4 linked regions of the Homo sapiens genome follow. The protein of the gene in region 1 interacts with the protein of each later gene in a biochemical or structural test. Each region holds a gene or a part of one and is shown on either strand. Other genes may lie near its edges.

Region 1 (8,139 bases):
GTCCCATGATCACGTGCTATTTCTTTTTTCTTTTCTTTTCTTTTTTGTTTTGAGATGGAGTCTCGCTCTGTCTCCCAGGTTGGAGTGCAGTGGCGCGATATCGGCTCACTACAACCTCCGCCTCCCGGGTTCAAGCAGTTCTCTGCCTCAGCCTCCCGAGTAGCTGGCATTACAGGCGCCTGCCACCACGCCCGGCTAATTTTTTGTATTTTTAGTAGAGACAGGTTTCACCATCTTGAGACGGAGTCTCGCTCTTTTGCCCAGACTGGAGTGCAATGGCGCGATCTCAGCTCACTGCAACCTCTGCCTCCCCGGTTCAAGCGATTCTACTGCCTCAGCCTCCCGAGTAGCTGGGATTACAGGCACATGCCACCATGCTCGGCTAATTTTTTTTGTATTTTTAGTATCGATGGGGTTTCACCATGTTGGCCAGGCTGGTCTCAAACTCCTGACCTCGTGATCCTCCCACTTCGGCCTCCCAAACTGCTGGGATTACAGGCATGAGCCACCGCGCCAATCACATGCTATTTCAAAGCAGTCAACGAAGCTCTAAGCCCAGAGTCTAAGCGAAGATGCATCTGAGTTGGTGGAAGTGCTCACGTGGGGTCCAGATCCATCTCTAGCTTGGCCAAGGCCCATTTGACCTGGCTTTGTTTCCCACCAAACAGAAGAATGGAAAAGTCACATCATATGGACGCTTATCTGAAGACTAAGCTAAACATTAACAAAAAGAGAGGGGGAAATAATTGAAATAACATGGATGGTTCTGCCAGCTGTTGGACTCTGTACTTATGTCCTGACTGACCATGAGCTGAGAGCCGCAAATCTGCTCTTGCTGAAGCCCCAATCCAGTCTGCATCTCTTGGTATATGCATCCTGTGATTCTAGTATTTTTTTTTTTTTTTTTGAGACGGAGTTTCGCTCTTGTTGTCCATGCTGGAGTGCAATGGCATGATCTCGGCTCACAACAACCTTTCCCTCCCAGGTTCAAGCGATTCTCCTGCCTCAGCCTCCTGAGTAGCTGGGATTACAGGCATGCGCCACCACGCCCGGCTAATTTTATATTTTTAGAAGAGATGTGGTTTCTCCATGTTGCTGAGGCTGGTCTCGAACTCCTAACCTCAGGTGATCTGCCTGCCTCGGCCTTCTAAAGTGCTGGGATTACAGGCATGAGCCACTGTGCCCAGCCCGATTCTAGTCTTTAAAGGAGGATTTCCTGGCTGGGTGCAGTGGTTTACGCCTGTAATCTCAGCACCTTGGGGGGCTGAGGCAGGCAGATCACTTGAGGTCAGGAATTTGAGACCAGACAGACCAACATGGTGAAACCCTGTCTCTACTAAAAATCCAAAAATTAGCCGGGCATGGTGGTGCATACCTGTAATCCCAGCTACTCGGGAGGCTGAGGCAGCAGAATCGCTTGAGCCCAGGAGTTGGAGGTTGCAGTGAGCCAAGATCGCACCATGCACTCCAGCCTGGGCACCGGAGTAAGACCCCGTCCCCTCCCAAAAAAATCAATAAATAAAATAAAGGAGGACTTCCTACTACATCATTTTTAGACACAAATCAACTATTATTTTTCTTCTGTTGCCCAATCCCCAAAACAGTAATCTGATCCTACATTTGAAAAAAAACCTGGGCCCAGTGCAGTGCCTCATGCCTGTAATCGCAGCACTTTGGAGGCCACGGCAGGAGGCTTATTTGAGCCCAAGAAGTCAAGACCAGCCTGGGCAACATAGTGAGACCCGTCTCTACAAAAAACGAAATTAGCTGGGTGTGGTGGCACATACATGTTGTCCCAGGCATTTGGGAGGCTAAGGTGGGAGGATGGCTTGAATCTGGAGTTGGAGGCTGCAGTGAGCTGTGATCGAACCACTGCAGTGCAGCCTGGGTGATACAGTAAGACCCTGTCTCAAAAACAGGAAAAAAAAAAAGTAAAACAAAACCCCAGCTTTGCAGAGAGATAGTATCCAAAGTGATTTATAACAATGGCCACAATTAATGTAGTATCTATGCCACTAAGATGAAGGAGAAATTGGTTGACAAGTGTTCCAACAAGCCGCAGTGAGCCAGACCTTAATGAAGACAGAACACGCAAGATCTTTATGACTGTAACACATGAATTTGAGGGTTACAAACCTTAATGGCAAAATGCTCAGAAAAACGCTTTGTCTGCATACACATTGCCTCAACAGAGACAGCTTTCTGACTAGAGGTAATTCAAAACCAGCTCATGTTGACCTAACCGTTTTAGGAATTGCTTCAGTCTCAAAGAAGTTGGAGTTGTTTATGAAGAGGCAGCAAAATTCCACTGTGGGCCCGGTGCGGTGCTCACGCCTGTAATCTCAGCACTTTGGGAGGCTGAGGAAGGCAGATCACTTGAGGTCAGGAGTTCGAGAACAGTCTGGGCAACATGTTTAGTAGAAACCCGTCTCTACTAAAAATACAAAAATTAGCTGGGCGTGGTAGTGCACGCCTATAATCCTAGCTACTCAGGAAGCTGAGGCAGGAGAATCACTTGAACCCGGGAGGTAGACGTTGCCGTGAGCCGAGATCGCGCCACTGCACTCCAGCGTGGGTGACGGAGCGAGGCTCGGTCTCAAAAAAAAAATTCCACTGTGAACCACTAAACAAATTCATAGAAGAAAGGAACTACCTTCCAAACGTTTTCACGATGATAAGAGTCATCTTGGCTAAATAAACTTCTGCCTTGCTAACTCACTTTGTAACATCCCCCCAAATTCTACTCCACGACTCCACTATACCCAGGAAATCCTTTCCCTGACCCCTCCAGGTGGAGAAACCACTCTCTCAACAAAAGATACTCACTGAAGTCCACAGCAGCTGAAATCTGCATCTCGTAGGCTGGCTGCTCTTACTAGAGTGAGTTATAGGCTTCTCAAGAGTTAAATTTGTTCCTAAATATATGCCAGTGGCACGTGGTATTGGGAATAGAGAATTTAATTAAATATTACTAAATGTCAATGAAATACAAGTGCAAAAAGAAAGTTGCTCTTGTGCAAACTTAATGAATGACTTTCGAGACAATCGACAAAGGAGAGTCACAATCTTATTAGGCAAGGACCGAAGGGATCCTAGACATTGTCCGGGAAATCGCAAAAATTCAGGCTTCTGTAATCAGATTGCTTCTCCGGTGAGCTTTACGCTCTCCATGTATTTTTCAAAAAAAATCCAACATGAAAATTCTAGAGGAGGCTTTATTGGGTGCGGTCTGTGCAAGAGAGACGATGGGGAATGCCAATCGGAGAACCCAGATTGAAAGGAAAGGTTTTTGGAACCCACATCAAAAGACTGGCTGCTCGGAAAGTTTTCTCGCTAGCGACAAAGGCTTGGAGGCTGGAAAAAGCGTCGTGGTCGCCACCTACCGAGAAGCGGCGGGTGGGGGGAGGATGGCCGTCGTGGCCCGAATCCCCAGTGGGTGGTACTGGGTGGGGGGGCGGGCGGGAATCAAAAAACCACTCAATCTCGTGCTTTACATAAACATCTAAAAATCGTCGGCCTCGGGGTTGTAAAGTTTTGGAGTTTAACTTAGGTGAACAGTAATGTCTCTCCATTTTCAAAACCCACCGGCTAATTCAAGTTGAGAAGCAAAAAATAGTGGTAGGGGGAGGAGTTTGAGTTAAATCGCATCGCGGTTGACAGAACAAAACAGGAGCTACGAGTCAGGATTTCTGCTCCCACTCCCTTGCAAGTTTCCTTCCAAATCCTGAGGGAGAGATAGAGGCGGAGGGTCTGGGGGAGGAATTAAAACACAAGGTCTCCTCCCCTCTCGCCTGTCCGAACTTGGGGGCAACGGTCTCTTTGGAGGCCAGCTTGGAAAACACTAGAGAGGAGTTCTTTGTGTCCTGGAGGGTGGTGCAAGGCGGAAGGACTCCCCTTTTGCAGAGCAAGGAGGGCGACGGCCCAGCCCGGGGCTCCCCGGCTTTTGCAGCTTCCCTGCCTCGCAATTTGCAAGGAATGTGGGGTGCAAGAGCAAGTGGCGGACTTGGACGGCGGCTGGCGCTCGGTGGGGACGACGCCGGAGCCACCACCCGTCCAGATTTCCGTTTCTGCACCCCGGCTCCCCTCCCCCACCCGGGCGGCCGCGCAGGCCCCAGGTGCAGCCATGTTCTCGCTCCCACCACCCTCGCCTCCATTGACAGCCCTTGCTGGAGAGGGCCGGGCGCCGCGCTTGCCTCGTCCTCGGGTTCGGGGCTAGCCGGCGCGGTGCTTCCTGGGAGTTGTAGTCCACGACCGCCGCCGCCGCGTTGACGGGGAACGCATCCGAAACTACAACTCCCGCTGGGCGGCGCTGCGGATGCGCAGGCGCAACGCGCCTTCGAGGAACAAAAAAAAAAAAAAAAAAAAAAAAAAAGAAAAAAAAGAAAAAAAAAAGGAGGAGGAGGAGGAGGGTGAGAGAGAAGCTGGGAGAGCAGAGAAAAGGGGCCACCGGTCGCCCCCCCGCTTCCCCGCACGCGCTCTCCAGCCGCGGCCGCCCGCCTGCCGCGGTCACCCCGGCCTCTGCCTCTGTCCCCCAGTGATCGGATCAAGGCGCTGAGCGAGGCCCTGCCTGCGGGGCGGCCATGCGGCGGTGACAGGAGCGCGACCGACACGCACGGGCCCCTCGCCCCCTCTCGCCTCCCGTCCGCTCGCCAGCTCCCCTCAGCCGAGGCTGCTCCGCGGCGGCCGCAGCCCGCGCGCGGCCCACACTCGCCTCCCCTCGGCACCCCCGGCCCCGGAGCTGCCTGGAGGCGGCCGCACTCGGGTGAGTCCCTCTCGCCTCATCCCCGCGCCCCCCGCCCCCGCCTCGGGGGCCATTGCGAGCGGGGGCCTTTATTAGAGACTTTGCCCCGCCGGGGCCTGCAGGGACAGGGGCCTGGGAGCCGCGGCCCGCCGCGCGCGGTGTGGGGCCTTGGGGGGCGCCCGTGCCGCCTCCCCCTACCCCCACCCCCACCGCCTCGCCGGGTCTCGAGCCCCGCCGGCCTTGGCAGTGGCCGAAACGAGGCGATGGGGGTGGGGCGGCACGGACGCGGTCGCGGGGGACGACAGTGGCACGCGCGCGCCTCAGTGCGCGTGGGGGAGGGGCGCGCGCGCCGACCGGCGTGCGGTGGGGGGGCGCCTCGCGCGTGCGATCCCGCGCGCGAGCGAGCGAGCGGCCCTGCGGGCTGCGCATGCCCCGCCGCGCTGATTGGCCGGCTAGGCGGTGCGGGGGCGCGCGCGGTGCCAGGCCCGAGCCGTCGTGGGGTCGCGCTCGCCTGGTGTATCTGGGGCTCCTGCGCCGGGGCAGCAGACGCGCGGGATTGGCCAACCGGCGCGGGGGCGGGGCCGCGCGTTGCCTGGTAACTGCGGCGGGCGGGGGAGCGGGAGCGCTGTCCCCCGCCCCGCCCCGCTCCCAGGTGGAGTCCGCAGTGGGCTTTGTCCCGGGCCGGCCCGGCGCGCCTGCCCCGCGGGGCCTGTTCTTTGGGGGAAATAAACACAATGACCGGAAGGAAAACTTCAGCTTTAGGCCATGAAAATTAAGCCGTCTGGGTTCAGCCAGCACCCAGACGACGGGAGTGCAGAGGAAGAAGGAAAATGAAATGGAAAAAGCTGTCTCCTTCCCGCTCCCCGACTTCTCCACTTTTTCTTAATCCAGCTTTTGCTTTTTCGTGTAGCGAATTTTGTCCTCCCTAGGTTATGGATTTGCGCTGATTTGCGGCTGGGGATGTTCACAGGTGGGGTGCTGTTGGAGTAGTGTCCACTCTTGGCGATGCGCAGCTCTTGCTGACTACTGACCTCCTTTTTTTAAAAAAAATTATTTGTGGAGATGCGTTCTCACTTTGTTGCCCAGGCTGGTCTTGAACTCCTAGGCTCAAGCGATCCTCCCACCTTGGCCCCCCATAGTGCTGGGATTACAGGTGTGAGCCATCGCTTTCGGCTTAATTTTCTTTTTTTTTTTTAGAAACAGGGTCTCTCTGTGTTGCCCTGGCTGAAGCGCAGAGTGGCACAATCATAGCACATTGCAGCCTCCAACACCTGGGCTCCAGCGATCCTCCTGCCTCAGCCTCCTCAGTGGCTGGGACTACAGGCGCATGCCATCATGCCCTGCTAATTTTTTTTTTTTTGAGATGGAGTCTCACTCTGTGGCCCAGGCTGAAGTGCACTGGTGTGATCTCGGCTCACTGCAACCTCTGCCTCCCGGGTTCAAGCCGTTCTCCTGCCTCAGCCTCCTGAGTAGCTGGGATTACAGGCGTGCCCACCACGCCCGGCTAATTTTTGTATTTTTAGTAGAGATGGCGTTTCACCATGTTGGCCAGGCTGGTCTCCAACTCTTGAATCAAGCTGAAAGCAATCGGCCCGCCTCGGCCTGCCACCAAAGTGCTGGGATTACAGGCGTGAGCCACCGCCCTGGGTCACGCCTGGCTAATTTAAAATTTTTTTTTAGAGATGGGGTCTTCTTGTGTTGCCTAGGCTGGTCGGGAACTCCTGGACTCTGGTGATCCTCCCGTTTAGGCCTCCCAAAGTGGTGGGAGTACAGGCTTGAGCCACCACGCTGGGCCTCATCTCTTTTAAATTCAACTTTGCCGCAGACAATGGCTTGATCAGCCAACAGTGCAGAGGAGAAGTCTCCAGTCCTTCAGGGAACAAAAGGGGAAGTTAGTTTGCAAATGAGAACGTGCAGGTAGAGTGCCCTGCGGAGGCGGGGTCTTCTCCCCAGGCTGAGGCCTGTGGTGTGGGATGACCGATTTTATTTCCTGCTACAGGATTTTTCTGTGGCTGCTACCTTGGCTTTCGTTTCTCCTCCTCCTTGAGATCTTGGTCTTTTGGCTGGAATGACATTTTTCAGCCTATGGAAATCTTTCTTGCTCATATGCAGCCACTTCCTTAAGGTCTTCTCTTTTTTTTTTTTTTTTGCTGCTGTTGTTGAGAGGGTTTCGTTCTATCCCCCCAGGCTGGAGTGCAGTGGCGCGATCTTCGCTCACTGCAACCTCCACCTCCCGGGTTCAAGCGATTTTCCTGCCTCAGTCTCCCCCGAGTAGCTGGGATTACAGGCGCCTGCCCCCAAGCCCCGCTAATATTTGTATTTTTAATAGAGACGGTGTTTCGCCATGTTTGTCAGGCTGGTCTTGAACTCCTGACTTCAGGTGATCCGCCTGCCTCGGTCTCCGAAAGTGCTGGGATTACAGGCGTGAGCCACCGCTCCCGGCCTGTGGTCTTCTCTTATATTGCATAGTCAGAGTTTGTTCCTTCTTAGTCTCCCAATCAACTTGTGTGCCCTTCCTCGCAGGGCACCTTTATTTTCTCTCTTTTTTTTCCTTTTCCTTTTTCTTTTCTTTTCTTTTTTTTTTTTTTTCGGAAGCGGAGTTTCGCTCTCGTTGCCCAGGCTGGAGTGCAGTGGCGCGATCTCGGCTCACTGCAACCTCCGCCTCCCGGGTTCAAGCGATTCTCCTGCTTCAGACTCCTGAGTAGCTGGGATTACAGGAGCGCTCCACCACGCCCGGCTAAGGGCACTTTTACTTTCCTCTGCATCTGGCCTAGTCACTGGGTGTTGAGCTCGTAGGGGCAGGGACAAGAAGCCTTTTCCTCCTATGTCTTTCTCCCTCCACTTCCCCCTCCAGTTTGGCATCGTCCTCGTGCCTTGCCGGTGGTAGCAATGCTGCTTACATTTGAGTGTCTTCCGTGCCCCCTCCATGGCTCTTGAGCGCTTTGGATGTACAGTATTTTTCTTATTTAATCTTTGTGACAAGTCTGTAATTCTATTCTATAGAGCGGAACAAGTCTAGAGAAGTTGGAGAGTTCTGTACTCTTGCTTGCCTAGCACATGAACCTGGCCAGTGTGACTCAACCCCTAAGCCGAGGTTGTGAAACCACCGCGCCTGGGCGTCCCCGGGAGAGCTGGCATGTGCGGACTCTGCTTGCTGGGCCCTACCTCCCAGGCTGATTCTGCAGGTCTGGGGAGTTGCCCCACAATTTGCATTTCGATTAGCTCCCCAGGTGGTGTTGATGGTGGCTGCTTCCCGGACAGCCCTTTGAGAACCATTCACAATGGTGCAAAATGAAGGGAGAGAAATTTATTGGAGATATTTGCTTTTTCTTACTTTAAAATTAGATCTTGGCCGGGTGCGGTGGCTCACACCTGTAATCCCAGCACTTTGGGAGGCC
Region 2 (8,495 bases), on another chromosome or scaffold:
AAACCCAGCACTTTGGGATGCCTAGGCAGGCAGATCACCTGAGGTCAGGAGTTCAAGACCAGCCTGCCCAACATGGCGAAACCCCATCTCTACTAAAAATGCAAAAAACTGGCCAGGTGTGGTGGCAGATGCCTGCGGTCCCAGCTCCTTGGGAGGCTGAGGCAGGAGAATCGCTTGAACCCAGGAGGCAGAGGCTGCAGCGAGCCGAGATCACGCCACTGCACTCTAGCCTGGGCGACAAGAGCAAAACTCTGTCTCAAATTAAAAAAAAAAAAACAAAAAACAGTTTATTAAGTACCAAGTGCTAGGCCAGGCACGGTGGCTCACACCTGTAATCCCAACACTTTGGGAAGCTGAGGAGGGTGGATCACTGGAGGTCAGGAGTTCGAGACCAGCCTGGTCAACATGGTGAAACCCCGTCTCTACTAAAAAAAATTAAAAAAAAATTAGCCAGGCGTGCGTGGTGAGGCATGCCTGTAATCCCAGAGACTCAGAAGGCTGAGGCAGGAGAATTGGTTCAACCCAGGAGGTGGAGGTTGCAGTGAGCTGAGATTGCGCCACTGCACTCCAGCCTGGGAGACATAGCAAGACTCCGTCTCAAAAAAAAAAAAAAAAAAAAAGGTCCAAGTGCTGTGATTGCAGGATTGGTTTGTTTCATTTTCTCATAATCTTATGACATAGGTATTGTTAGCCTTATGTTACAGCAGTGGAAACTGAGACTTAGGTTAATCAATTTGCAATTGATTTAGGTAGAAGTAGCAGAGCTAGGATCTGATCCTTGCTCTGACTCCAGTTCCTGAAGTGTCACTCATGAGAAGTCCTGAGGCAGGATAGGATAGTGGGTAAGAACATGGGCTATAGAGTTAAGTAGACTTGGGTTCAAATTTTGGCTGTACTGCTTATTCATTACATGACCTTAGACAAATTGCTTAATCTCTCTGAGCCTCAGTTTCCTCATATGTAAAATGAGGACAATACCCCACATAATAGTTTGGAGGAAAAAATGCCAATGCATTGTAAAATACATAGCACAGTGCTTGGCACCTGGTAGGGTCTCAATTAAGGTAGCAAGCCAATAACTAGGGACATTGGTCTGAAAGGATCAGTCATGCAGAGTAGCAATGCTGGGAGTGCTGGGCCCCTGCTATATCAATGCTAGGAGGACTCACACTGAAAAGGGTCAGGGCTTGACCTTTGTATTCCTGGGACTACTTCTCCCCCAACAGATGAAAAGTTGGAAGCAAGTCCAGCCTCAAGTCCCCTGGCAGACTCAGGCCCAGACGACTTGGCTCCTGCCCTGGAGGACTCGCTGTCCCAGGAGGTGCAGGACTCCTTCTCCTTCCTAGAGGACTCAAGCAGCTCAGAACCTGAGTGGGTGGGGGCAGAGGATGGGGAGGTGGCCCAGGCAGAAGCAGCAGGAGCAGCCTTCTCCCCTGGGGAGGACGACCCTGGGATGGGCTACCTGGAGGAGCTCCTGGGAGTTGGGCCTCAGGTAAGGAGAGCCGTGCTGGGTTTGGGGGTGGCATGGAGTCAAGGGTGGACAGGGCCTCCTGGTCCTGAGTCACAATGCTGTGCCTACAGGTGGAGGAGTTCTCTGTGGAGCCACCCCTGGATGACCTGTCTCTGGATGAGGCACAGTTTGTCTTGGCCCCCAGCTGCTGTTCCCTGGACTCCGCTGGCCCCAGGCCTGAAGTTGAGGAGGAAAATGGGGAGGAAGTTTTCCTGAGTGCCTATGATGACCTAAGTCCCCTTCTGGGACCTAAACCCCCAATCTGGAAGGGTTCAGGGAGTCTGGAGGGAGAGGCAGCAGGATGTGGAAGGCAGGCTCTGGGACAGGGTGGGGAAGAGCAGGCATGCTGGGAAGTTGGGGAGGACAAGCAGGCTGAGCCTGGAGGCAGGCTAGACATCAGGGAAGAGGCAGAGGGAAGTCCAGAGACCAAGGTGGAGGCTGGAAAGGCCAGTGAGGATAGAGGGGAGGCTGGGGGAAGCCAAGAGACAAAAGTCAGATTGAGAGAAGGGAGTAGGGAAGAGACAGAGGCCAAGGAAGAGAAGTCCAAAGGTCAGAAGAAGGCTGACAGTATGGAGGCTAAAGGTGTGGAGGAACCAGGAGGAGATGAGTATACAGATGAGAAGGAAAAAGAAATTGAGAGAGAAGAGGATGAACAAAGAGAGGAAGCCCAGGTAGAAGCTGGAAGGGACCTAGAGCAAGGGGCCCAGGAAGATCAAGTTGCTGAGGAGAAATGGGAAGTTGTACAGAAACAAGAGGCTGAGGGAGTCAGAGAGGATGAGGACAAAGGACAGAGGGAGAAGGGGTACCATGAAGCAAGAAAAGACCAAGGAGATGGTGAAGACAGCAGAAGCCCAGAAGCAGCAACTGAAGGAGGAGCAGGGGAGGTCAGCAAGGAACGGGAGAGTGGGGATGGAGAGGCTGAGGGAGACCAGAGGGCTGGAGGGTACTATTTAGAAGAGGACACCCTCTCTGAAGGTTCAGGTGTAGCGTCCCTGGAGGTTGACTGTGCCAAAGAGGGCAATCCTCACTCTTCTGAGATGGAAGAGGTAGCCCCACAGCCACCTCAGCCAGAGGAGATGGAGCCTGAGGGGCAGCCCAGTCCAGACGGCTGTCTATGCCCCTGTTCTCTTGGCCTGGGTGGCGTGGGCATGCGTCTAGCTTCCACTCTGGTTCAGGTCCAACAGGTCCGCTCTGTGCCTGTGGTGCCCCCCAAGCCACAGTTTGCCAAGATGCCCAGTGCAATGTGTAGCAAGATTCATGTGGCACCTGCAAATCCATGCCCGAGGCCTGGCCGGCTTGATGGGACTCCTGGAGAAAGGGCTTGGGGGTCCCGAGCTTCTCGATCCTCTTGGAGGAATGGGGGTAGTCTTTCCTTTGATGCTGCTGTGGCCCTAGCCCGGGACCGCCAAAGGACTGAGGCTCAAGGAGTTCGGCGAACCCAGACCTGTACTGAGGGTGGGGATTACTGCCTCATCCCCAGAACCTCCCCTTGTAGCATGATCTCTGCCCATTCTCCTCGGCCCCTTAGCTGCCTGGAGCTCCCATCTGAAGGTGCAGAAGGGTCTGGATCCCGGAGTCGTCTTAGTCTGCCCCCCAGAGAACCCCAGGTTCCTGACCCCCTGTTGTCCTCTCAGCGCAGGTCATATGCATTTGAAACACAGGCTAACCCTGGGAAAGGTGAAGGACTGTGATTAGGACCACAGCCCTGGGCAAAGGGGACCAGCAAGTTGTCTTGAATCTCCAGGGTTCCTGACTAGCTGTCTCCTCTGCAGCATGAGCAGCTGTAGTGCCCAACTCTATAGGCTTTGGCCCTCCAGCTTCTCTCTTTGACTGTGGGAGGCACTGCCTTGGTTGGTTTACCTGAACTTGTCTCCGACACAAAGCACTTATCTCTTAGGAGATTCCCAAGAAAGTCAACAAGATCTTGTTCCCAGGGAGTGGGTCATTGGCCAAAGGGAACATAAGGTAGGCAGAAAACTTAAAAGAGTTTGTTAAAGTGAAGACTGGAGAAATTCCTCCCTTCCTCTGAGCTGTGAATCTCTCTTCATGAAAGCCAAAGGTAGAGACAGGGAGGACAGGGCCAGGTTAGGGCCTTCCACACACAAACACTTCTAGAGTTGCCCATTCCTGTTATGTTCTTGGACCCTAAGATACCTCCTGTCCCTTTTAAATCCAGATTAAGAGAAACGTCCAGGAAGAGCTCTTTGAAGCCCTCAATATTTGTTGGAGGGACTGGACTCCTCTCCAGCTCCCCACCCTCTGCCTCCAGTCACCATGTGCAAGAGAGGTCCTGTACAGATCTCTCTGGGCTCTCCTTTCTCCTTTGGAATAACTTGTTCCTATTTCAGGAAAGGGAAATGGTGTCACTCAGGCCCTGGGACTGCTTCTCCAGCCAGGCTGGGGCCACAGGTCCCACTCTAGTGAAGGTCAATGTCTCAGAATAAAAGCTGTATTTTTACACATAGTGTGGAGTCTCATTATTCTTATTAAAGTCTTTGGTGATAGGTATTATATCTTCACATATTTGGCAAAACATTCTTTTTCTTCTTCTTGTTTGGGTGCTCTTCCTCAGTTGTTGTCATGGAGACTAGTGGCCAGAAACTAGAGCTAGGTTCATGGTGGTCAGGAAATAAGGAAGAGAAACTTATATTTACATAATGCGTTCATTATGTGCCAGGAACTGGACTAAGTATCCTGTGCTCACAAAATCTATGTCCTTGATTTTATTTAATCCACACAATTCTGGAAGGTTGGTGCTAGTATCTCCAGTTTATAGATGAGGAAACTAAGGCTCAATTAAGTCAAAATGTTTGCCAAAGGTCTCAGAGGTAAGAAGTGGCAGAGATGGGTTTGAAACCTGGATCTGCCTGGCCCCCAAGCTTGAATTTTTCCCATTATACCACACTACTCCAAATCCATTCAGGGTAGGTCTTGATTGAGAAGAATGGGAATCAAGATTCCTGTCACAGAAGGTGTGAGCCTTTAGAACACTAGAAGCTTTGGGGTCTTTGGATGAGTGACTGCTGACGCGAATAACAAGGAACATATCCAATTCTATGCATGCCCCGATAGGTCGTAATCTCTAGCAGGTAACCTTTCAAAAAGACGCCCTGCGCCAAGATGGCCTCCCAAATAGCCCTTGTTAAAGATGGCGCCTCCGTCGGACGTCCCTCCCTTGATCTCAGCTGGATTCTCTTCTTTCCTGGAATGAAAAAATGCCCTGCCAAGCACTAAGATATTAGTACAAGTTAGTCGTCTCTTTCCCGTTCTTGTCGAAAGTGGCCAGGCCTTCAGCTACATTCTCCAGGACACGGCTTCTTTCCGGCTTCACAAATAACCCACAAACACCAACTCTCATCAAGATGGAGTGAGCGGAAGTGGGGCAGTTCTGAGTTTGAGTTTATGGGCGGGGCGAGAGCGACACTTCCGCCCCTCACCAACATGGCCGCGGGCTGGAAGTGCGCATGAGCAGCTGTCTATGGAGATACCTAGGCCGGGAGAGGGAGAACACAGTTGGAGAAAATCGGCAGCTGAGACGGCCTTGGCCGGTGAGTGTAGGACCGGGCAGAAGTCTGGAAACTGGGTGGACTGGCAAGGCAGGGCAGCTTTGATTTTGTTTCCGTTTTTCAAGTTAGAGAACACTGCTGGGGAGGAAGCCTTTGTTTTGGGGGAGGGGGCTGTGCTGGTTCTTTATCTCATACCCTGCTTTGTGGGCCAAACTCTCTCCCTTCCCCAGAGCGCGAGCGTCCCAGCCCTCCTGCGCTGTCCAGCTGCGCGCCGCAGCCGCCGGCACCGGGCGCTTGAGCTCCCTAGTCCCCGAGGCCCTTTCCTGCCTCCTCCGCGGAGCAGCTGGGGCGCGGGGCTAAGACTGCGGGGCTGCGGGGTCACGGCGCAGGCTCCCGGGCTCGCGCCTGGCGGGCGCTCAGCTCCGTAAGCGCCTTCTGGTTGGTGAGCCTGCAGGGAGACGCCTCATTCTAAGGCAAGGTCTAGGTGCCTGACTTCTTTCGGGAGTTGATTTTTTTTCCCTTTGTGTCCAGACTTAGCAAGGGCTCTTACTGGGCCCTTCTGGCCTGAGCGTGCACACCACAACGTCCCATCCCTGTTTCCGTGTCACCGATCCCTAATGCCTAGGAAATGCTTCCGGATGTCCAACTAAGATTTGAATAAGTACCCTGACCCCGTTGCTGGGTGTCCTCAGAGACTGCCCCGGCTGACAGCTGTGGCCAATAGAGATGCCTCCTGTGCCGGGCCCTCTATTTCATTGCCTTCCCCTGCAGTCAGCGCGGCAAGCTTCGCAGGGCATTTCCTCTTCAGGTTTGAAGATGGAAATGTAGGTGGTCCCAAAACACTAGTGCTACTTCCCCTTATCGACTGGGATCTCCTTGCAGCGTTACTTCGTCTGTACGGTTTCACTTTCAGTTCCTTTTTCAACATTTTCCTCGGACGCGGTCTTTCCGAGGCTTATCCATTGAAAATTTTCCTTGGATAGGAAAGGTTTGGAGGACCTTATGGGTAGAGAATTTCCAAAAATCTTGCCCCTTTTGTGTTGGGATTATCTTATTGCTTTGTACTGTGTAGCTGTTTCTTTCTGGAGGCATGTCTGCCCAGCTCTTTGTTTTTCCTGCCCTCTGGCTGGGTGTCAGGGTCCTAAGGCAGAGCTTGTAGGTGGATTCTTCCCCCTTTGTCTCTTCTTCAGAACCCTGTTTTTTTTTTTTTTACCCCTTCTTGCTCAGGCTTAGTTGATTTGGAGTTGTCATAGCAACATTTTAGCAACAGTGTTGTTCTGCAGGAAGGCTTGATGAATAAAATAGAGAATGCTTGAAGAGGATCCACTTGGGCTTTAGGGTTTCTAACAGATTATATAAATCTGGATACCCCAAAACAAGAGTCCTGTCAGTAGAATGGGGCCCAAATGCCAAGTCTAGTCTTTGTGGTCAGGGATATTCTTCCAGTGGTAGTGGGCTTCAGATTTCCTCTTCCTAGGTTTGAAAACAGAAATGTCTTGATGGACAACATGTGGCTGAGAAACTGGAAGAAGCATCAGTGTCCATGACACTGTATTTTTTGATGGTGGGGCCAATACATGGCCCTTCCTGATTCCCATGAAGCTGCCATCATGGCAGGTCATAATAGCTTTAATGATCCATTTAGAGATGTGTTGTTGGCTGGGTGCGGTGGCTCATGCCTGTAATCCAAGCACTTTGGGAGGCCGAGGCAGGCGGATCACCTGAGGTCAGGAGTTCCAGACCAGCCTGGCCAATATGGTAAAACCCCATCTCTACTGAAAATACAAAAATTAGCTGGGCGTGGTGGTGGGCACCTATAATCCCAGCTATTCAGGAGGCTGAGGCAGGAGAATCACTTGAACCCAGGAGATGGAGGTTGTAAGCCGAGATTGTGCCACTGCACTCCAGCCTGGGTGACAGAGCAAGATTCTGTCTCAGAAAAAAAAAAAAAAAAAAGAAAGAAATGTGTTGTTTCGGCCAGGTGCAGTGGCTCACACCTGTAATCCCAGCACTTTGGGAGGCTGCCGAGGTGGACAGATCATGCTCTCAGGAGTTCGAGACCAGCCGGGCCAACATGGTGAAACCCCGTCTCTACTAAAAATACAAAAATTAGCCAGGCGTGGTGGTGTGCACCTGTAATCCCAGCTACTCCGGAGGCTGAGGCAGGAGAATCACTTGAACCTGGGAGGCAGAGGTTGCAGTGAGCTGAGATCGCGCCACTGCACTCCAGCCTGGGTGACAGAGAGAGACTCTGTCTCAAAAAAAAAAAAAAAAAAAAAGTGTTGTTTCTGTCTTCCAGTATAATTATCCACTCTCCACCAGGAGTTGGAGTGATAATGGAGGGATGGGGAACACTATTTGTAGCCTTGCTTTTTCAATCACTGTAGGCCAGTCCTCAACATCAGTATGGTGGAGGCTGATTGTCCCCTGCAGATGACTGGGTTATTTTCCTGGCTATGTGTTCATGGAACCTAAGTTCTAGAACCAGAGATACTGTTCTGTTTCCTAAACTCATTGCAAACTTCATGATTTCTACCAGGACTTAGCACTCAGGCCTGTGAATCAGGAGATACAAAGACCTCCAAAAAAGGACCAGTTCCTCGGATGTGCCCCCTCACAGAGAGATGAAGGGGTGAGTGAAGAAGAGGTAGGGTCTGGGATGAAAGATGGGTGGCCTGGAAGAATGCAAAATGACCAAGAGCACTGCCTCTGGAGTCAGGCAGACCTGGATTCAGGTTCTACTCTATCACTTACTGTGTGATTTGGTTTCTCTATCTATAAAATGGAAGTAGTGCTATCTATCTCGTGGTGCTGTTTTTAGTACTAAATAAGATTACATGTAATGTACTTAGCTTAGTGCTTATGTACATAGTAAACAGTAAACACTAGTTGTTATTCTAACCTAACCCAGCTTCTGTTGGGAATGCCAATGAGTTTGCAGCCATATGTTACTGGGCCAGTGAGCTTCTCATTGACTTCTTCTCATACTCTTCCTTTTGTCCTTTCACCACAAACAGGCAGCAGAAAACAGCTGAAACGGAAGAGGGGACAGTGCAGATTCAGGAAGGTGAGTGCTAGAAACAGAACCAAGACTAAGAACCCATCATGGCCTCCCTTCCTTCCCCACCAGACCATCTCCTGTGCATCCTCCTCCTTCCGTGACATGCAAATGGAACGGGGGTAGAAAGGCAGTTAACTCACAGACTTTTCCTTTGTTCTTTTAATTCAGGTGCAGTGGCTACTGGGGAAGACCCAACCAGTGTGGCTATTGCCAGCATCCAGTCAGCTGCCACCTTCCCTGACCCCAACGTCAAGTACGTCTTCCGAACTGAGAATGGGGGCCAGGTAAGGGAGGGGGCCAGGTGGCTGCAGGTGTTATCTGGGGTTGGGATTGAGGGAGGTAATTGAACATGTCTTGGGGAGACCTGGCTTGGAGGATGAGTTGAAAGAGTGGACTGTTGCAGGGGAGGGAGGTGCTA
Region 3 (8,218 bases), on another chromosome or scaffold:
ACTATCACTGTTTCCACATGAAAAGGGTTTAAATAAGGAACTGTGGTAAACCAACAGAAGGCATCTTGCTCACGTTAAAGTTGAGGAAACTGAGGCCTGGGAGAAGTGAAGTGGTTCATTTAGGGTGGCCCAATTACTTACTAGATCCTATTTTTATTAGATAATTATTAAGAGGAGGCCTCATCTGAGAACACAGGTCTCTTGCTTCTCAGTTGTCAATGAATTGCATTTGAGAAGGTTCGAATTAGACCTGTTTTGTTTGGAACACACCAACAAAGCTGTTTTTCAGAATCAGAAATCTCAATATTAGGACAATTACTTTGGAATGAAGATGTCCCCAGCTTACCTTGACAGCTGTGAATATTCATTAGCCAGGCTAATGCCAATAAACTGGATAGAACTTTGCATATTTTGGGCTCAGACTTCTTGTAAGATTTCAAGTTGTGTAAAGAGAAAGCTCCTAGCTAGTGTCCTGCTGAACACTAGCTTATTTCCAGACTGAATTCAGATCCTTCTTCTCGTTGTTTCTGCATTCCCACTAGAATTTTAGGTGACTCAGGCAGGGAGGTTATAGCTCCTTAAAGTTTTAGGAGGCTAAGCTGTCTAGAAACACAGTAGAACTTTAATCCCCCCGAAAAGTTGATGTTGTATTCTGATGGAATTTCGGTTGATGGAAAGCGTACACAATGTGTTTATTTCTAGCACCAGAGCCAATGGAACTTGATGGCCCTAAAGGAACTGGATATATCAAGACTGAGTTGATTTCTGTGTCTGAAGTGTAAGTGAACACAGAAGAGTGACATGTTTACAAACCTCAAGCCAGCCTTGCTCCTGGCTGGGGCCTGTTGAAGATGCTTGTATTTTACTTTTCCATTGTAATTGCTATCGCCATCACAGCTGAACTTGTTGAGATCCCCGTGTTACTGCCTATCAGCATTTTACTACTTTAAAAAAAAAAAAAAAGCCAAAAACCAAATTTGTATTTAAGGTATATAAATTTTCCCAAAACTGATACCCTTTGAAAAAGTATAAATAAAATGAGCAAAAGTTGATCAGAGTGGGAAAGTAGTTCTTTTCAATCTAGAAAAGGCCAAAGTAATGATTGAGATACACTGTCTCCACTTGCTTTGATTTTGTTGTTTCATTTTATAAAAGGTAGAAAAAATTTTGGAAATGTCATTGTCAGTTATTTGGCCTGCAGCACTGTCTTGGGGTGAATGGATGTAGCCTTCATGTAAAAACACTGTGTGGAGCAGCTTTATCTGCATTCAAACCTCAAGGTAGGGATGAGGGACTCCCCAGACATTTCTCTGGTGCTTTTCTGTCCAGGGTAAGCCACGAGGCATTGTCATCTCAGGGTAGTGCACCGCACATGCTCACACCTAGGCTTACCCAGGCAGAAGCGGCACAGATTCCAGTCTGGCTATTGCTTATCACATCCCTGGAGTGTGAAACATTTCCCAAGGGGCTGGGCTGGGGACATGAGCCTCCCATGAGCTGTACTTTTGCAAATGTATTTTACAAGTGTATGCACTTACCCAAAATAAAAATATAACGTGATAATTCAATTACAGACAAAAGATAAAGTGTGTAAGTATGCACTAGTGCTTTCATCACTCAGATGTTGACATTGCTCTTTTCTTTTTCCCCATTTTAGTCACCCTTCTAGACTTCAGACCACAGACAACCTGCTCCCCATGTCTCCTGAGGAGTTTGACGAGGTGTCTCGGATAGTGGGCTCTGTAGAATTCGACAGTATGGTGAGTACCACGGCTGGCCTGTGTGTAGCTCTCAATAAGTGTGTGTGCTCAGAGGCAGGGAGCGCACCATGGCAGATCCCGGGCCTGTCTGCGGGAGGGAGCCCTGGCGGAGCCAAGGAGAGTGCAGTGCTCAGATGAGCCATGACAAGTTGGAGCTGCTGGATTTAAACCACCTACATCATCAGTGGGATTTTTATTCCTCGCATTCAGCACCTTCCAAAAAACAAGTGACATTTCTAATATTCAGGTTTCCTCCTCTCCCCTTTAAAGTTGTCCATGTAGAAATTTCATATATTAAGGAACTAAGATTTCTTTGATAAGCAAATGTTTTTCTTCGGAATGCGATTTCATCACTGTGTCTAGGGGAGGGAGTGTTATTTTTAGAAAGGGAGGGACTAACGCTTGGTAGTTACAGTAATTAGAGAGAATTATACTTTAGCAGCAATGAGATTACTTCATCTGCCTTATATTTGAGAGCTAATTTGTACAAGTAGCTCCTGGGGCTGTGAAGGGCTTGCCAAGAGTAAAAGGTTCAAGGAGTGAAATAGTTAATGAGATTCGTGATAGAAATGGGAATATGATTGTCCACAAAAGGGAACATCTTCCTTTTGGAGGGTGCTTTTTTAGTATATCAACTAGTATTGTTTGCCTTTCAGCCTAAAATCCTTCCTCTTAAAGATTGTGCTTGCTTGGCTGGATTTTTGCTGATGCTGTTTAATTTTAAGCTCTTTTCCACATGGAGCTATTCCAGCTCATTTTTAAAAATTTATTTAATGCTTCCAAAAAATATCCTGAGTTATTACTGGCCTTTCTTCCTTACTGTATACCCGGTGCCTGGCAAAAAGTAGGTGCTCAACAAAGAGAGGAAGGCAGGGAGGGGAAAGGTGAGCGAGAATGAGAGGGCGTCACTCTTCAGACATTTGGGGAATGCGATGATAAGGCCTCAGTAAGATCTGCCTGGATTCAGGTTTCTCATGTGTAATTTTTTGACTTTTTTCCTCACCTTAAGCACGGGCTACAATCATTAGAGATTGTACCTTCCTACACTTTCCTGATTGTTGTTGACGAAATAGGCCATTTAGAAAAACAGTTAGCTATTGTGGCAGCGAAATAGTTTCATTCCTATTGGCAAGTGTAAAATGAACCTTTTCTGCATGTAAGAAGGATCCTGCTAGAGTTTCGCTCCCAACACTGCTATAGGCCTGGCACAAAAATGGAATAAATATAAAGCCCTATTCAGAAAATATGTTACATCACAGGAACTGTAAAATGGGGGGATTTTTTATACCTCCTTTGTTGTTCCTGAGCAAATTACATCATCATCACCACCACCATTAATAGGTGACATTAAGCACCTACAGTATACCATGTACTTCACAGGTAGTAACTCATTCAGTCCTCACAGCCACCTTCTGAGTTAGGTGTTATTGTTATTCCTACTTTGACAGATGTGGGAACAGAGCCCCTCCTCCCCACACAGCCCCTTTTATGTAACTTGACTAAGATCAAGCAGTTAGTAAATGGTAGAAAGAATATTTGAATCTACCTAGTGAGTCTCTAGTGCATGCTTTTGTCCGGTATCCTGGAAAGCCTCCCACAAAAAGCTAATCTTTGCCCCATTCAAAACATGCACCCTGAAGAAGCTGTTTGTACAGGATTGGGTTTATTCTGTTATTAAGACAAAGGCATCATGGCCTTTGGGTGAGAGGCCCGTATGTGTTTGGGATTTGGCAATCAGCATTCCATCTCTGTCATCACCATTATTGAGAAAATAGATGGATTGGTTCCCTCTCTGCAGTCCTGTGGAGCAGTTGGACTGCTCTCTCTGCTCTCAGGATGATACTGTGAGAACAATTTAAATATGCTAAGCACATGTCAGGAAACAGTTTTGTGGTCTTTGGACACTCGCTGTAGCCATTCCGTTCCATTTCAGGTGATTTTATTCATTTCATTTGTAGAATAAAATAAATCCATTTCACACACACACACACACACACACACACACACACACACCCTCTATACACCACTAAAGCCTCCCATTAAACCCATAGAAGACTTAAAGAGCTAAAAGAGGCTATAATATAAAAAAAAAAAAAGAAAAGAAAAGAAAAAGAGTTCATAATATAGGCACGGCACTGGTTAGACAACGGTTGAATCAGTCTCTAAATTGGGTTGACTTCACAATGGTTTGCTGTCCTGCCCCTTGGCCATGACTTCCATCCAGCATCTACTCTTAGAATCAGAGTGTATACTCTGAAACAGAAGCAGCTCTCCCCAAGCTGGCTGTCTTCTGCCAAGTCTGGAGGTTGCAGCTCTGAAAGAGGGTGGTACCAGGGGCCAACGCCTGGTGCAGCCTCAGGAGCAACAGGACCATAGGCTCCTGAGGAAATTGTCCAAGAGAGCCAGAGCACCAGTGTTCTCTGCAGTATGACTTGGGCATTTGTTTAGTCTGGATTTCCTGTGTAATCAGTGTTTTCCTCTGGGACTGTAATAGAACCAGTCTACTCTCCAAGAGGCCTTTAGCCAAAGCTCATAATGATAGGACTAGCTATTAATTGTCTACTACTTTCTGTCTACTATACTAAACATTTTACGTATGCCATCTAATTTAACAAGCCTATCTGCTAGGTACTATTAATCCCCTTTTGATAGATGAAGACTTTGAGATTTAGAGAGGTTAAGCCACTTGCCCTGGTCACGCAGTGACAGGATCTGAATCTGGGCTTCCTCTCTTCCTCTATCTATCTATCTCCCCCTCCCTCCCTCTCTTTACCCCCACGGTCCACCCTATTAAGCACACATTTGAAACATCAGCCAGGCCGGGCGCGGTGGCTCACGCCTGTAATCTCAACATTTTGGGAGGCCGGGGCAGGTGGATCACCTGCGATCAGGAGTTTGAGACCAGCCTGGCCAACACGGTGAAACCCCATCTCTACTAAAAATACAAAAATTAGCCAGCCATGGTGGTGTGTGCCTGTAATCCCAGCTACTAGGGGGGCTGAGGCAGGAGGATCGCTTGAACCTGGAAGGTGGAGGTTGCAGTGAGCCAAGATGGTGCCACTGCACTCCAGTCTGGGCAACAGAGGAAGACTCCGTCTCCAATTTGAAAAAAAAAAAGAAAGAAAAAGAAAAGAGAAACATAAGCTAGACTGAAACATAGGGGCAACACTTTCACTGTGCTTTTCAATCCAAAATAATTTTCCTAAGAGCCCACTATGTACCACACACTATTGAGCACTTGGGATTAAAAAAAAGTTCTCCAGAGGCTTTCCAGTCTAGTGCCATGTGTCTCAGTCTTGGTGCTACTGGTATTCGGGGCTTCAGAATTATTTGTTGGGGATTGGTGGGGTGGGGAGCTTTCCTGTGCTTCGTAGGAGGTTCAGCAACACCTCTGGCTTCTACCAAATAGATACCAGTAAGCACATGCACCCTCACAGCCAGATGGGACAATCAGCAATGTCTTCAGCCATTGCCAGGGGACAGAATCATCCTCGATTGAAAGCATCTGGTCTAAGGGGAAAGACCAGTGTGGAAGTCAGACAGGAAGTCACTGGCAGGCTAGTATCCTTTGGATGAACAGTTTACTTACTATAAGTTGTCCTGGTCAAGGCAGCTGGGCAGAAGGCACTGGTGGGGAAGGTGAAGGGGTTCTTAGTAATTCTGCTTCTTTAGTCTGTACCTGAAACACAGTCATTGATTTTACCCACTGAGTGGCCTTTAGGGGAAGTGTATCATTTCCCTCTCCTTCCTCTCTCCCTCTGGCATATGGCTCAGCATTTCCTCACCCGTTTCACATGAGCAGATTTGACACGTTGCTCTGTCCCCAGACTTGCATAACAGCAAAAAGCTTTATGCAGTCTGGATGGATTCACAAAATTAAGCCAGTGGGCAGCAGAGTAATAATCCGTCAGCTTAGGTGATATAAAAGGTCTTGATTAGCCCAGGATAATACATAGTACATGCTGAAGGCCCTCTTATTCCACGGTATTTATTTGCCATTGCAAGTATCTTCCTACTACTTCATTCTAGAATAGACAAGCAATGTTTAATGTATGAGTCTGCATTTCACAAGATCAGTGTAATAAACTTAACCACATTTTGTCTTTTTACAGATGAACACAGTATAGAGCATGAATTTTTTTCATCTTCTCTGGCGACAGTTTTCCTTCTCATCTGTGATTCCCTCCTGCTACTCTGTTCCTTCACATCCTGTGTTTCTAGGGAAATGAAAGAAAGGCCAGCAAATTCGCTGCAACCTGTTGATAGCAAGTGAATTTTTCTCTAACTCAGAAACATCAGTTACTCTGAAGGGCATCATGCATCTTACTGAAGGTAAAATTGAAAGGCATTCTCTGAAGAGTGGGTTTCACAAGTGAAAAACATCCAGATACACCCAAAGTATCAGGACGAGAATGAGGGTCCTTTGGGAAAGGAGAAGTTAAGCAACATCTAGCAAATGTTATGCATAAAGTCAGTGCCCAACTGTTATAGGTTGTTGGATAAATCAGTGGTTATTTAGGGAACTGCTTGACGTAGGAACGGTAAATTTCTGTGGGAGAATTCTTACATGTTTTCTTTGCTTTAAGTGTAACTGGCAGTTTTCCATTGGTTTACCTGTGAAATAGTTCAAAGCCAAGTTTATATACAATTATATCAGTCCTCTTTCAAAGGTAGCCATCATGGATCTGGTAGGGGGAAAATGTGTATTTTATTACATCTTTCACATTGGCTATTTAAAGACAAAGACAAATTCTGTTTCTTGAGAAGAGAATATTAGCTTTACTGTTTGTTATGGCTTAATGACACTAGCTAATATCAATAGAAGGATGTACATTTCCAAATTCACAAGTTGTGTTTGATATCCAAAGCTGAATACATTCTGCTTTCATCTTGGTCACATACAATTATTTTTACAGTTCTCCCAAGGGAGTTAGGCTATTCACAACCACTCATTCAAAAGTTGAAATTAACCATAGATGTAGATAAACTCAGAAATTTAATTCATGTTTCTTAAATGGGCTACTTTGTCCTTTTTGTTATTAGGGTGGTATTTAGTCTATTAGCCACAAAATTGGGAAAGGAGTAGAAAAAGCAGTAACTGACAACTTGAATAATACACCAGAGATAATATGAGAATCAGATCATTTCAAAACTCATTTCCTATGTAACTGCATTGAGAACTGCATATGTTTCGCTGATATATGTGTTTTTCACATTTGCGAATGGTTCCATTCTCTCTCCTGTACTTTTTCCAGACACTTTTTTGAGTGGATGATGTTTCGTGAAGTATACTGTATTTTTACCTTTTTCCTTCCTTATCACTGACACAAAAAGTAGATTAAGAGATGGGTTTGACAAGGTTCTTCCCTTTTACATACTGCTGTCTATGTGGCTGTATCTTGTTTTTCCACTACTGCTACCACAACTATATTATCATGCAAATGCTGTATTCTTCTTTGGTGGAGATAAAGATTTCTTGAGTTTTGTTTTAAAATTAAAGCTAAAGTATCTGTATTGCATTAAATATAATATGCACACAGTGCTTTCCGTGGCACTGCATACAATCTGAGGCCTCCTCTCTCAGTTTTTATATAGATGGCGAGAACCTAAGTTTCAGTTGATTTTACAATTGAAATGACTAAAAAACAAAGAAGACAACATTAAAACAATATTGTTTCTAATTGCTGAGGTTTAGCTGTCAGTTCTTTTTGCCCTTTGGGAATTCGGCATGGTTTCATTTTACTGCACTAGCCAAGAGACTTTACTTTTAAGAAGTATTAAAATTCTAAAATTCTATTAATCTCTCATTAATAGTATTTAATATAAAGATTCTTAAAATTACTGACGTTATGAATTGGTTTGATGCTTTTCTCATGTACCTCAATCCTTATTTTAAAATAAGATCAATAACACTATTTTCCTAAATGTTGTCCTTACCTGCCCTACACATATTCAGAATTGCTATGGCAGATTAAGACATGTCAATGGAAGAGGTCAGAGGAGTAATATTATTGGCAACAGCTGTAATAGGTGCCATAAAAAGCAAACAAACAAAAGTATTTTGGTTCTTTGCGACCACAGCTGTCCCCAAATATACAGATGATTCAGCACTTATTTTAAAATGAATCTGGGTATTGCTAATACCCCCAAATTAGCAGTTTTTAATTTTAAAATACATGAGAAATGGGACTTTGTCTTGTCTCCAAAGCAGTCATCTAAAATCTACACCCCCACGATTAGATGAGTTATTACTGAGAAGTTATTGCACCCACAAAAAAGCTGCCATTTTTTTCCAAAGATGTCAAAAGCTAGAAGGCCAGGTCTTCTCAAAGTAAAATACACTGTGTATTGGGGAAAAAAGGGTAAGAGGCATAATTACCAAGTTAGGCATAGTCTGTCAAGTTGTATTTAGCTATTATCATGGAATAGTGTTATTCCCTGATAATGAATGTTGGCAT
Region 4 (4,739 bases), on another chromosome or scaffold:
AAGAAACCTATAGTTACAGGTTTATGACTGGGAAATGTAGAATTTCCATCTGGATTTTTGAAAAGCTGGGAATCATGAGGCTTTCCCGGATTCTGTCTGGTTTCAGGACACTGGGATGGGGACCACTGGCTTAAGTCAAAGGAGAGGAAGTGATTATGCTGTGGTGGGGTGTACACCTCAGCCCGGATTTCAGGAGGCTGGAAGGCCTCTGAGACCATTTCCAGCTCTATCATTCTGTGCAAAAACACCCTAAAGCCTTGCTACTCAAACTCTTGTCCCTGGACTGGCCACATTGGAGTCCCCCTGAGATCTGATTAGACATGCAAAATCCCAGGCCCCACTCTAGACTTCCTGTGCCAGAAGCTGCGTTCTAACAAGATCCCCAGGAGGTTGAGAAAAGCCCTGCCCTAAATGATTCTAACAGTTTGCTGTCAAGACACAGTGACAGTAGGAGGGATATATGACAGGGGAGACAGGGATGGTAGGGGGAGATTTTGGCCTCCCTCTCATGAATCCATGCAGAGAGCATCCTCTTCTATCTGCTTTCCTCAAGTGTGAAAGAAAAGTAAGAATCCAGGTCCCGCCCCTGTTGCAGGCCTGATCTGAGGTTTGTGAGGGCAGTCGCCGTGCAGGTGAGAGGTATGACTCGCAGAGCATTCAGGAGAAGGACTCTAACACTTGGAGGGTCATGGGGGGTGCCCATAAGTGGGATGGCCATGGAGATCAGCTCAGAGACAGAGGACGATGAGGATGTGGAAGGCACCAGGCAGCAGCAGGAAGGAAGGCCAAGTTTGCTGACAAAGCAGTGCTTCCCCCATCTGGGGATGGCCAGGCCTCCCCATGCTGGCCACCACTAGAGGGGTGGGAGGTGATGGAGCTGTGTTGGCCCAAGGGGACCTCCAAAGCTGTTGTGTGGAGCCCGGACTGTCTTTGTGTCTGGGCAGGACAGTGGCCACCTTCCAGATACAGCTTCCAGGCTGTGGTTTAACATATATTTTCACAGATTTTAAGATGCATATATTTTTAATGTTTTAAGATCTCTGAAATAGAAATGAATTTTGTATTCAACGAAACCTGGAAAATCCTCTCTAATTGGCCTAACCCAATGAGTTCATTACTGTTTGTATTCTATTTCGTAGATGAGAAAAATGAGCCTTCTGAGCAGGAAGTGGCCTGAGCAAAGACATATAGCTAGGAAGGGTCAGGATTGGGGCTGCGGTTGAAGTCAGCCTGGCTCCTCCCTTGGGGAAGACTTTGAGCAGGAGGAGGTGGAGCCCCATGAAGTGAGAAACCAGGAAAGGGCAGAATTGAAGGGGGAGATGGAGACCCCTCTAAGGGCAAGGATGGGTGGATGGGTCTCCTGGGGCTGCTAACCCTCTGTCACGTGTTTTCCTGTCACAGACAAGAAGCTCCGCCACGCCCGCAGTGGGGCCCCCGCTGGAGGGCCCAGAGCACCAGGCACCCCTCACCTATTTCCCGTGGCCTCAGCCCCTTTCCACACTACCCACCTCCACCCTGCAGTACCAGCCTCCGGCCCCAGCCCTACCTGGGCCCCAGTTTGTCCAGCTCCCCATCTCTATCCCAGAGCCAGTCCTTCAGGACATGGAAGACCCCAGAAGAGCCGCCAGCTCGTTGACCATCGACAAGCTGCTTTTGGAGGAAGAGGATAGCGACGCCTATGCGCTTAACCACACTCTCTCTGTGGAAGGCTTTTAGGCGTGGCTCCCACCTGAGTCCTGTTCCCTGAAACTGGGATTTTAAAATGAGCCTGGAATTGAGCCCCAGGTTCATGCTTGTTTGGAGTAGTCATTTCATGACTACACTTTCTACGCACAGCTAGAATTGTAGACCTGTAAACCTTCCTTCCCTTCTTCCTTCCCCTCCCTCCCTCACTTCCTCCCTCTCCCCCATCCTTCCATTCTTCCCCTCCCTCCCTTCTTCCTTTCCAACCCCTTCCTTCCTTTTCCTCCCTCCCTTCCTTCCCTCCTTCCCTTCTCCCTTTCCAACCCCTTCCTTCCTTTTCCTCCCTCCCTTCCTTCCCTCCTTCCCTTCTCCCTTTCCTTCTTTACCTCCCTCCCTCCCTCGCTTCTTCTCTCTTTCTTACTTCTTTTTTCAATTCTGTTCCATTTTGGGAGGTAATTATAGGGATTTTAGCAATAACATTTTATGTCAAATGTTGCCAAGTCTGTGGTCCATGGGCTTTCATTTCTGTCACATTTCATTTCTTGGAAAAGGCCTCCTTCCTCCAGTGCCTGCTGAACCATCTTAGGGTCACTCACACCCTCTGTAATTTTAAGATGTATGTGGTGGCCGGCGGGAAGACCAGCCCCGACAGCACCTCCTGAGAAAGTCAGCCAAGGGCCTACCCTGATGCCAGAGTCCTTGAGCTGTCAGTTCCCACAGTTGCTCCTTTGTTTGCTCTTCTCAGCCTCGGCCAGATTTACAGTCCAGGCAGCAAAATCTCAAGGCCTGGGGCTCAGAGTAGTAAGGGGTGGGAAGTGGGTGGCAGGGAGAAAAGAACATCAGGGTGGGTGGGGACAGGCCAGTGACGAAGAGAGGGACAGAGGAGGGATGGGAACAGGCTGTGCATCTTAGTTGGAGAGAGGGGTGTGGGAGGAAGCTTGAGTTTGATGCAGGGAGGAGGAAGGCTGAGGAATGACTTGGCTCCAGATTACTTGGTTATTAAGAAGAACAATAAACTAAAGGAAAGCATTGCTTGAAGAGATGGTTTTGCTGCTCTCCTTGAGGATACGTGCAAGGGAAGTTGGGCTGTTGTAAACAGGGTGAAGGGTGTGTTTGGTCGGCCATTTCTGTCTCACCTCTAGGCCCTCTGCTGGTGCTGTGGAGGCCAAGACCCCATTAAGCCTAAAGGTGATGGGTCCTCGCCTAGGCTTAGTGCTACCATGTGGGTTTTGTTTCTTTCCTTCCTTCCTTCCTTCCTTCCTTCCTTCCTTCCTTCCTTCCTTCCTTCCTTCCTTCCTTCTTTCCTTCCTTCCTTCCTTCCTTCCTTCCTCTCTCTTTCTTTCTTTTTTTTGGTTTTTTTTGGGACGGAGTCTCACTCCATTGCCCAGGCTGGAGTACAATGGTGCGATCTTGGCTCACTGCACCTCTGTCTCCCAAGTTCAAGTGATTCTCCTGCCTGAGCCTCCCGAGTAGCTGGGATTACAGGTGCATGCCACCATGCCTGGCTAATTTTTGTATTTTTAGTAGAGACGGGGTTTCACCATGTTGGCCAGGCTGGTCTCGAACTCCTGACCTTGTGATCCGCCCGCCTCAGCCTCTCAGAGTGCTGGGATCACAGGCGTGAGCCACCGCACCCAGCCTTTTACCATGTGGGTTTCTTTAGTGTCTTAAAAGCGTCCATAAGCCACCATTCTGTGGAACCAAGGCCCCCTCCACGCAAACACCCTCCCTCCTGGGGACCTCTGGAGCCTCAGCCAGAAGTACCATTAGGTTTAATTTTAATTTGTTTTGCTGGAGAAACATCAGGTTTGTAGGAGACTGAGTTGTTAGCAGGTGTGCTTAGCTCTTGATAGTGAACGTGTACCTTGGGAACTGGCTCACCCACCTGCTAATAGCACCATCGTCACTATTAAGCAGACATTTCAGTTGGTAGAATCCATGTAGAAGTCATGGACTTTTCTGGGAAATGACTTTTCTGGGAAATGACAGTTTCTTTGACATATTTTCTTTGCCCACTTTAAATAAAAACTCTGGAGAAAGTTGTCTGTTTTGGATTTTCTTTTTCTGCTTAAGATTAATTTTGACCCAGATTTCTCTGTGCCTGCCTTAAATCCCAGTACACAAATCTTGAATTGTTTTTATTCAGATATTTTTTAGATTTAAAAGTTCAAGACAGCATTTGAGAAGATGCATTTACATCTTTGTCGGTACTGATGGTAAGTAGGTGGGCAGGGCTCTCAGTCCTATTTGATTAAAAGCCCTGGTTTTCCATAAAAAAAGACACTATGCAAGATTTTTCAGCGTACCATTTGAGAGGGTGCAGAAGCAACCTCCGTAAAGGAGTTAAAGTTGGCAAAAACTAGCAAAGAAATATAGTACTTTACGTGTTTGCTAAGATAAATGGTCTATTTTTTCTCTTATCTTGAGGTCAAATGTCTTGGTAGTAGTCCATCTGGGTTTCTTCCCGAGTTACTCTGCTAAGATGGAAACATTTTCATAAAGATTTGTAGAGACTTTTCTGTGCCAAAGTGTTTCATTTCTTATCAAGTTGATCCCCCTAAGCTTTCAGTCCCATGTTAGACAGTGTGATTAGAGGAAGGAACTTAACACTAGTCTTGTTGACTTTGCAAATTGATCTGTTGCAGAAGAAGATAAAACCAGTCCCCACCGTGCCTGCAGTCCAGTTCTCCCAAGCAGGACATGCGCGTGGCTAGGGGGCTTGTTGTCCAGGAGAGTGGGGAGCTGAGGAGAGAGGGAAATCTTTTAACTTGATTGCTCTTCCTGTTATTCACGCCATCATGAGTAACTTCTCATGACGCTGAGTGTTCAGGGATAAGTTCTACCACGGGCATTTCCATAGCAGGCTCTGAAAATCCATCAATCAGGATCCAGGAGCATGTGACATCAGGCAGGAACCATGACCTAAGGAAGCCATCTCATAGGGCCAGACATCACCACGGAATGGAAATTCCAGAAGCCAATTAGTCCCCTCCAAGATCAGTCAATGGAGTGAGTTACAGTTTGGAAGGGGTCTCCCTTTCCTGGTGATTTTCTGA

Evidence for each region.
Region 2: the proteins of GTF2I (region 1) and USF1 form a complex in vitro, tested with the Homo sapiens proteins (2 studies listed by BioGRID).
Region 3: the proteins of GTF2I (region 1) and STAT1 form a complex in vitro, tested with the Homo sapiens proteins (one study listed by BioGRID).
Region 4: the proteins of GTF2I (region 1) and POU2AF1 form a complex in vitro, tested with the Homo sapiens proteins (one study listed by BioGRID).

What each region holds. Positions count from the first base shown.
Region 1 is NC_000007.14:74,653,307-74,661,445, forward strand, and holds the start of GTF2I (general transcription factor II-I), read left to right. Parts: upstream 1-4,411; 5' UTR 4,412-4,762; intron 4,763-8,139. UniProt on the Homo sapiens protein: Interacts with the basal transcription machinery by coordinating the formation of a multiprotein complex at the C-FOS promoter, and linking specific signal responsive activator complexes.
Region 2 is NC_000001.11:161,042,421-161,050,915, reverse strand, and holds the start of USF1 (upstream stimulatory factor 1), read left to right. Parts: upstream 1-4,938; 5' UTR 4,939-5,058; intron 5,059-5,931; exon of another isoform or gene 5,932-6,004; intron 6,005-7,555; 5' UTR 7,556-7,640; coding exon 7,641-7,648; intron 7,649-8,033; coding exon 8,034-8,083; intron 8,084-8,243; exon of another isoform or gene 8,244-8,245; coding exon 8,246-8,361; intron 8,362-8,495. Other genes in the region: ARHGAP30 (rho GTPase-activating protein 30), read left to right, coding at 1,227-1,492, 1,582-3,201.
Region 3 is NC_000002.12:190,968,372-190,976,589, reverse strand, and holds the end of STAT1 (signal transducer and activator of transcription 1-alpha/beta), read left to right. Parts: intron 1-678; coding exon of another isoform or gene 679-702; coding exon 703-778; coding exon of another isoform or gene 779-782; exon of another isoform or gene 783-1,052; intron 1,053-1,657; coding exon 1,658-1,760; intron 1,761-5,872; coding exon 5,873-5,887; 3' UTR 5,888-7,441; downstream 7,442-8,218. UniProt on the Homo sapiens protein: Signal transducer and transcription activator that mediates cellular responses to interferons (IFNs), cytokine KITLG/SCF and other cytokines and other growth factors.
Region 4 is NC_000011.10:111,351,238-111,355,976, reverse strand, and holds the end of POU2AF1 (POU domain class 2-associating factor 1), read left to right. Parts: exon of another isoform or gene 1-1,401; coding exon 1,402-1,716; 3' UTR 1,717-3,722; downstream 3,723-4,739. UniProt on the Homo sapiens protein: Transcriptional coactivator that specifically associates with either POU2F1/OCT1 or POU2F2/OCT2. It boosts the POU2F1/OCT1 mediated promoter activity and to a lesser extent, that of POU2F2/OCT2. It recognizes the POU domains of POU2F1/OCT1 and POU2F2/OCT2.